2 separate regions of the Homo sapiens genome follow, and region 2 is linked to region 1. Evidence: fine-mapped expression QTL. A gene starts in region 1. The other region holds a variant in brackets. All regions are shown on one strand. Distances are between the middles of the regions. Region 1 holds the start of CEDORA (CDH13 antisense oligodendrocyte and neuron associated lncRNA). Region 2 overlaps CDH13 (cadherin 13).

What was found. PIP is the estimated chance that this variant, and not a neighbour inherited with it, causes the effect. A credible set is the group of variants that fine-mapping cannot tell apart.
Region 2: its variant is the best candidate, but not a certain one, in a credible set for the expression of CEDORA in caudate (GTEx, PIP 0.88).

The regions. Positions count from the first base shown.
Region 1 is chr16:83,770,952-83,775,347 of GRCh38, reverse strand. It overlaps CEDORA (CDH13 antisense oligodendrocyte and neuron associated lncRNA), which reads left to right and starts at 2,399. Exons shown (of 4, transcript NR_188499.1): 1 at 2,399-2,539. The region is part of intron 11 of CDH13 (cadherin 13); the gene reads right to left.
Region 2 is chr16:83,740,904-83,745,239 of GRCh38, reverse strand. The region is part of intron 10 of CDH13 (cadherin 13); the gene reads right to left. All of the region lies in intron 1 of CEDORA (CDH13 antisense oligodendrocyte and neuron associated lncRNA), which reads left to right. Among named protein-coding and RNA genes, the nearest start is that of CEDORA, 30 kb to the left of the region's middle. The variant A/G (reference allele first, on the strand shown) is at 2,076.

The sequences.
Region 1 (4,396 bases):
GGAATCTGCTGAAGGTCATGGCCCCTGCCTCCAGAGAAACGCACCTGCATTCAGAAATATACCTGAAGAGTCCACAGACACGCAGATTGCAAGCCCAGGCTTGGTGCAAGATCAGAGCAGAAGATCTGAGGCCAATTCATTGTAGGTATGGTGAGGCTGAGGTCCAGAGAGATTTAGGACAGGCTCAAATGGACACCGTGAGTGTCAGGCCTCCTTCTCTAGAGCAAGCATTAACCTATACTTTCTCCACCAGAATTTTTATTACATAGCTTGAGTCTTACAGGCTCTCATTTTAACCATGAAAGCAAGCTATAATCCCTAAACCATAATTCCAGGTTATTATTATTACTATTTACAGCTTCCTTCTTATGAGCTGTTCTTTTCATTGTGGTGAAATATACATAACATAAAATTGACAATTTTTAACCACTTTGAAGTGTACAGTTCAGTGGTGTTAAGTACATTCAAATTGTTGTGGGAACATCACCACCATTCATCTCCAGAACTTTCTCACCATGCAAAACTGAAACTCTGACCCATTAAACACCAAGTCCCCATTCCCCTTCCCCTGGCCCCTGGCAGCCACCATTCCACTCCTTGTCTCTATGAATCTGACGACTCTGGGGAACCCATGTAAGTGGAATTTTTTATTTTTTTTTCACAAATAAATGGTAGGCCGGGTGTGGTGGCTCAGGTCTATAATCCTAGCACTCTGGGAGGCTGAAGTGGGCAGATCACTTGAGGTCAGGAGTTTGACACTGGCCTGGCCAACATGGCGAAACCCTGTCTCTACTAAAAATACAAAAAATTAGCTGGGCATGATGGCACGTGCCTGTAATCCCAGCTACTCTGGAGGCTGAGGCAGGAGAATCGCTTGAACCCAAGAGGCAGAGGTTGCAGTGAGCTGAGACTGCACCACTGCACTCCAGCCTGGGCAGCAGAGCAAGACTCTGTCTCAAAGAAAAAAAAAAAGAAATGGCATTTGACTAGGTCATTCTAAATGTATTTGAGATTCTTAGCTTCCTGTTCCTATTTTGCTTGCTGGAAATGACTATGACAGCCTGTGTCATAGTCAGGCTGGGTACCCAAGGAATCATCATTTCCAGCTAGCATAGTCATAGTTGTCCCTGTAGTAGGACAATAGGCAGGATAGGCGCTGGGACCAATGTCCTAGGCTTGCTGGTATCACCGGCCATGCACAGTAAAATAGCATTTACTATTTCTGTAGGACGAATAGCTCAGTAGCCGAAAATGATTATAGAGTTGAGTAGATCTTTTTCAGAGATAACAGCAGGGGGCTGGGCTCCACATGGGGACAGTCTGTGCTGATGGAGGTTTGTGAAGCAGAAATGAGACCCCAGAGCTGAGGCCTCGTCTTCCAGCTACAAGACCATGCCAGGCAGGGAAGGGGGAGGGATAAGGATGGAGAGAAAGGAGGAAGCTTGGGAGCAGGACCTTATTATAGAAATGGGCCTCTGTGGGGTAGTGGTTTAGAGCCTCATGACTGGGGAACAGTGTTGGAGCCTGTGGCTCAGCCACCAGGAGAATCACCATATACTAATGCTCACCCTGGGTTTGAGGCAAGGCTAGAAGAACTTCCTTACCTCCTAAGGATAGATAGGCTTGACCAAGAGGGCCATAACCTTCCCCTGTGCTGGACTACACTTTAGATGGGCTTCTTTCAGACTCTAGAGCCCTGATATGGTTTGGCTTTGTGTCTCCACCCAAATCTCATCTCCAATTGTAATCCCCACATATTGAGGGAGGGAGATGATTGGATCATGGGGGTGGTTTCCCCCATGCTGTTCTCTTGATAGTGAGTGAGTTCTCATGAGATCGGATGGTTTTATAAGTGTCTGGCATTTAACCTGCTAGCACTTCTCTCTCCTGACACCATGTGAAGAAGGTCCTTGCTTCCCATTTGCCTTCCACCATGATTGTAAGTTTCCTGAGGCCTCCCCAGCCATGTGGAACTATGAGCCAATTAAACCTCTTTCCTTTATAAATTACCCAGTATCGAGTAGTAGCTATACAGTAGTATGAGAATGGACTAATATAGGCCTTGACTTCTCTTTTCTTGAAGCATTTACTTTAGAAACTTGCAATTGTAAATTCTTTCTCTGTCCCTGTGAGATGTAAATCTTCCAACCTGTTGCTAGTTTTGCAACCCAGGACCACTTTTCTCAAGGACCTGACATCTCTTTGAAATGTAATCATGGAAAGGAATAGTGTCTCTGTCTCTCAGTCTCTGTGGAAGGGTTGGAGCCTAACTCCAGTAAACACCCATTAGCAAACACAGATGCCTAATCACATGGACCAACCTCCCCACAAACATCTTCCAGTACTTTTCCATTAGCTCATCCCAGCTCTTAAAAATCGTCCCATTGTTTGTTTCAGCAGAGTTAGTTCAATCTCTCTCCCTTATTGTAGCCTTGAATAAAGGCTTTGCCTTTCAAACTCTGTCCTGCCCATTTTTCTTTGACATGTTCAGATGTTGGCAAGGCTGAAAACTGCAGGGGATCTGGTTGTGATAATCCAGGTAAGCCACAGGGAAAGCACAGGTAAGGCAGAAGCAGGGAAGTGAGGTGAGGGGTGGTGTATCCATGAAAGGAGGGTTCCAAAAATGAATGATAAGAATGGTCATGTCACACCAGGAGTGTGGTACTGTGTGCACCCGTTGGCAAGCGACTTAATGAGATTGCTTTAAACATGGCTTGATTTTAATTTGTAGAACAAAATTGAATCCATGATTGATCCACAAGGCCCTGTGAAGTGTTTTGTAAAAATATACACTAAGTCTTTATGGTCAGAGTTTCTTTGATGCCGGGAGTTTCTGCTGACCTATATTCAGTGTTATAAGTAATTGGATTTTTCTTTTTAACCAGCAGTTGCAGACTGGCATTTGGTCTGCTAATTTATCGTGTTTCTGGGATGTCCAGTGTTCTAAGAATTCTTATTTTTTATCCAAATGGCTTCAAGTGGAGCACATATTTCCAAGATGACCACTGGTCCTTTCCAGCCTACTGCCTCTGCCCTGGCTTCTAGCAGCATAAGACTTGGGCCTTCCTCATATGTTCCCTCCTAGCTAACCTGACTTTAGCCAGTATAGATTTTTCTTCATTTCTCCATTCCTGAAGTATGGCTCCCTCCTTTCTCTTAAGCATGTCTTTCAGTCTTATACTACTTCTTTTCTTAATATTGAGTCTATTTGTATACATGGATAGTTTAATAGGCATCTCATTTAAGGTTCTCAAATAAGTATACAAGCTAAAAAGTCACCCCCCATCCTTCTCCACCCACAGAGTGTACATTGTGTTGGGTGATATCATGGGGAAAATACCAGGAGCAAACCTTAGCTGCAGGAATCTCTTTTCTCTTGTGTCATTGACTTCTTATTAGAAAGACATGTGTTTTGGTTACAAGGTTGGCAATTCCATCATGCAGCAGTGTGAATGGGATGTAAGGAGATATTTTTAATTTTACCTCCTAATACAACCATATCAAATCCCATTTCCAAATGAGGAAATGAGGACTTGTAGGCACAGATATCTGGAAACAAAGCCTATTTAAAATTGCTTAGTAGGAATGACAGTTTTCCTTCCGACCCATTTTCAGTGACAGCCTGTCACTCTTGACTGAGAGATCTCCAACCTACAAATGTTGGTGGGTTATTTATTTTGCAAGCAGCCCTCCTGCTGCCATACAATGGCAAGTCTTGAGGGGGAAAGGGTTATCATTTTCTTTCCTTTGGATCTGAGTTACTGGCTCTGTTGCTCTAGAGGACTATGCCTTTTAGACCATGGCGGTGCTTTTGCTTCATGGACTTGGCACCCTGCCACGGTCTTCCTGGCATTCAACCTCTGCTTGCCCTTGTTTCTGGCTTTGTCGTTCCCACTCAGCACTGACAACTTGTAAGAGCCTCAGCACATTATATGACCACGATAGGACCACATGGATTCCACTGCTGGATTTCAAACTCCAATAATTAACCTTGTATTTCTTCAAGTTGAGCAGTGATAACTGCCTATGAGATGGCCAAGTTGGCCACCTGGCCTGCCTGGGTTACTCTTGGTCTGGTTGGCTCATGACTTACACTTAGCCTTTTGTGATCTTGGTGTAGGGAGGGCAGAACTGTGCGTTTTCTAAGAGAAGCAGGGTAATATGATTAATAAAAGGTGAAGATTTACGTAGAGGAATCGAGCACCTGTTATCATACAGTCTAGGAAAAGTCCAAGCAAACCAGGCAGGCTGTTGCTTTGAGCACATGGGGGTCTACATTCTAGTTTTTTCTCATTTTCTAGAAAAGAAAACTAGACACTCAGATTAAGGAAAATGTCCAAGGTGCTCTAACATTAGTGTGTCAGAGGCATTGAAATCAGAGCAACTCCATCTTGAA
Region 2 (4,336 bases), 30 kb after region 1:
TGGAAGGCGTCTGGCCTGTTCTTTCCTAAAACAGCCTCGGGGTGCAGCCTCCCTTTAATATTAATAGTAACACAGCTGCAGCAGCATCGAGCCTTACATTGCGCCGGCTGGACACCGCTCCAGGAGCTTCCAGCATCTATGCCTTCAGCCCTCACACCAGCCCTGGGAGGTTGATAATATTATTCCTCCCCTTTTACAGATGAGGAACTGAGAGGCCTAGAGATATGTGAACTTTGCCAAGATCATTGGCTAATATGGGGCATGGTTGGGATTCGCAGGCTGGATCTCTGGTGCCAAGGCCTGCTGTCACCCTCTGCTGCTTCCCCCCAGCCGTTCACATTGCCAGCATCACATGAGTGTTAGAGTCATGGACTCTGGAGAGGAAAGGACCTGGGTTCTAACAGTGAGCCTGGCAAGCTACTTCTCTGTGTTTCTACTTCCTCCTCTGTGACTCGGGGACAGTCCCAGTGGTGTTCTGGGGTAGCTGTGAGGGCAAACTGAAGCTGACACAAAGGGCTTGGTCTTGTGCGGGGCGCCCTCGGGGGAGCCGTTGCAGAGTCAGGCTATGGGTGTGTTAATGGCTCACTGGGGTCATGGCCCTGTGTGTCCTCCCTGATGTGACTCACACGGTCCCCTGGAATGTTTCAGAAACATCCGACTCAGCAGAGCCTAGGGGAACAATGTTTTGATGCTGCAACTGTGACAGGGGACAGATGGGGAGAACGGATGAGGCGAACGCAGGGCTTCCACATGCCCTTGCTGCTGCAATGATCCTTTCACTATTTTGTGAAAACAGAAGCGATGAATTACTCATGAGAATGAACTGCTTTAAAAACACCAGGCTTTCATTTAAAGAGTCATTTATGCTTCCACCTGGCAAATTTTTACTGTTTCAAGACCCCACTCATACGTCTCCTCTCGTTCATCCAGTGTGACTTTCCCAGTAGAATTAATCACCTCACTAGGTCTGTGCGAGGCACATGCACTGGTAAAAATGCCTTTGGGAGCCTAACACGGGCCCTGACGGCTCTGCCATCTCCACTAAACTCTAAGCTCCTTGGTGTCAGGATAGGTAAAAGTTGGTCAATAGACACACAGAATGCTTCCTTGGGCCCAGCTTGGTGCTAAACCCTTTAAGAGCATCACTACATTTATTTTTGTGACTCATGACAACCTGATGAAGTGGGTATCATCCTTGTTTTAAGGTTGAGGTAACCAAGAATCAGAGAGGCTTAGCAACTTGTCAAAAGCGGCCCAGTTAATAAGAGACAGAGCTGGAATGTAGCACCAGCATGCTGGATTCCAGGGGCTGGGCTTCTCGGTACACAGTGTTTTTCATGCCTAAGGCTGGGGTGGTGTGCTCTGCACCCCCAGGGCCGAGTAGAGTGCCTGGACGCAGACGGTGCCCGGTAAAGGTTTATTACATCTTTTCTCCTTCTGTTGGAACAATCATGGGGATGGAAAAAGCAAAGAAAAAAAAAAAAAAAAAAAGAAAAAAGAAAAAAGGCAACTCATCAGGTAGCAAGTTTCCTGTTGATCCAGGAGTGATTGGTAGTGGTTCAACATATTTGAAATAATGAAAGTTTTAAATGAACCGCATTCTATTGCCTGATTACTCAACTCAGTTTAGAAGATAAATAAAAACTGAATTAAATAAATTTGGCTTTCATGTTTGGCGTACAAGCAATGCTCTTTGATGCTCCCTCTGTCATTCCTTTTTTGTCCCATGATGCCATAATTTTGTTGTACAATTAGCATGTTTGCTTGTTTCTTGTCAAAGAAGCAGTTGTATTCAATAAAATGCTTAGAGACATGAACTCGGAGGCAGTCCTCAGAAACAATACTCAGCACGGTTAGGCCTGCCTGCGCCACATTTCCAGGGAAAGCCAGGGTTTGGGTGATTTTACAGGACAATGTCTCACTCTTTTTCCTCCTTAAAAAAATAATCAAGTATCCAGAGCTGTGCTATTTAACTGAGTTTTCACAGGACTCTTTCTGCTCCCCTCTGTTTGCTTATTTTATTTTATTTTTTGAGACGGAGTCTTGCTCTGTCGCCCAGGCTGGAGTGCAGTGGC[A/G]GCGATCTCAGCCCACTGCAACCTCTGCCTCCTGGGTTCAAATAATTCTCCTGCCTCAGCCTCCCAAATATCTGGAATTATAGGCACCTGCCACCATGCCTGGCTAAATTTTCTATTTTTAGTAGAGCGGGGTTTCACCAAGTTGGCCAGGCTGGTCTCGAACTCCTGACCTCAAGCGATCCACCTGCTTTGGCCTCCCAAAGTGCTGGGATTACAGGCATGAGCCACCGCACCTGGCCAGTTTGCTTATTTTGTTTGGTGCCTCCTCCCATGGGAGACCTCAAGGAGGTATGCCTGCCCCACAGATGCCCTGGAAGGACAGCTTGCTGCTCCTACTCAGAAACACACCTGCAGACAGAGGAGGACAGACGGACACTCATTTGCTGAGCACCCATGTAACATGAACTAAGAGCTGGGTGGAGACAATGAACGGTGGAGCCATCGTTCCCGATGTGGAGGGAGAACAGCTCAAGACCACGGAACAGCCTGCTCTCCCGCTTCCTGGCTTCCGTGCGCTTTTGTCCAATCAGGCTTTTTGACCAATCGGCCAGGCGCGCTATGTAAATTTCTGACATTTTCAAAGCTGTCTTTTTAATAAACCTTTCAGTGTAAAAATACTAGCGTGCAAGATGTTTTCAATGCTTCTAGGCCTGAAAAATGCATACGCCTTATTAAATTGGAATTTCCGGGCAATTTATCTGTAATGTGAACTTTGCTTGTTACAGGAAAAAAAAAATCAAATTAAAAGCTGAGCTCATTTCAGCCTGTAATGTAGCTTCACAGAAGCTGCTCTGAGTGCTTGCCAAGCCTCGGCCTCTTCTGGGTGTCGGTGTTGGGAGACGCAAGGCAAACTGATTAACAGAATTCGAGTCGCAGGCAGCGCAGTGGGGGTTACTGGGGCCTGCGCCACCCTGGAAGGCGGGCTCACTCTCAGCAGGGCCCCCTCAGAGCAGGGAAGAAAGCTTCCAGGCAAGTGGCCAGGGCCAGCTGTTGACCTGGAAGGACTTCCAGAGCCAAGGGCTGCCAGCCTCTGCCCTCAGGGGCTCAAGTATTGGTGGGAAGGTGAAAGAGATCAAAGGTTTGACAAGTCCCTTCTGCAGGCTTCTTGGGGTCACTCGCTTTCTGTGAGGTAGGGCAGCAGTCCCCAACCTCTTTGGCACCATGGACTGGTTTCGTGGAAGACAATTTTTCCATGAACAGGTGGGGGATGGCTTGGAGATGAAACTGTTCCTCCTCAGTTCAGGCATTAGATTCTCATAAGGAGTGTGCCGCCTAGATCCCTTGTGTGTGCAGTTCACAATAGGATTTGTGCTCCAATAACAATCTGATGTTGTGGCCCAGGGGTTGGGGCCGTCCGTGGCCCAGGGGTTGGGGACCCCTGATGTAGGGGACCCATGTTTGCGCAGCATGGTTGCCAACATTACATGACTGAGCATAGCTTTCCTTTCAGTTTAGACTTAAAAATGTCATAAAGTAATATTGGGCAATTAGTGCACAATAGCCAAATGGATCAATGCAATATAGCAGAGCACTAGACATGGCACAGATTATATACGTATCAAATTTATATATAGGGAGATTATAGATATAGTAATAGATGGAAGATGGATCTATCTCTATATATGGCATATATATACACACATATATATACACACACACACACATATATATATATACACACACACATATATATAGTAGGATAGGAAAGACTATGAGAAACGTAGAAAATAAAAACTACGAAAGGAGAGGAGATACAGGGTATTTTTATATTCCTGCTGAAGGATACAAACAACCCTGTAAAACTGTAGGAAAGAAGGGAAACAGTAGGGGAATTCTTCACACCCTATTTAATTTCAGTCCACTGGACCCCGTATTTATTATTAAAAGCAGAACCAGAAAGAGACAGAACTCCCAATTGAAGGAAATACACTATCTTAAAATAGCTCATGTAGCTATGGCCCTGAGTGTAAAGTAAAGGGCATATTTCAAATCTTCTGACAAAATGTATGGATAAAATTGAATGGCTAGTGAATTCCAGAATCCTAGATTAGTTAGACAGTCACAGCCCATCACAGTCCAGGGTACTGTTCTCTTCCTGTCCCAGGAAACCAGAGCCAAAGAAAGCAGTCTCAGTAAACAGAAAGGACTGCCATGGTCTCTAGGGCCCTAGAGGATCCATCTGGACCTGCCTGACTTTCTACCTGCATTTTCTATCTCTTTCCTCAGCCTTCCGAAGTTACAGACTCACTGGCCTTTCTTTA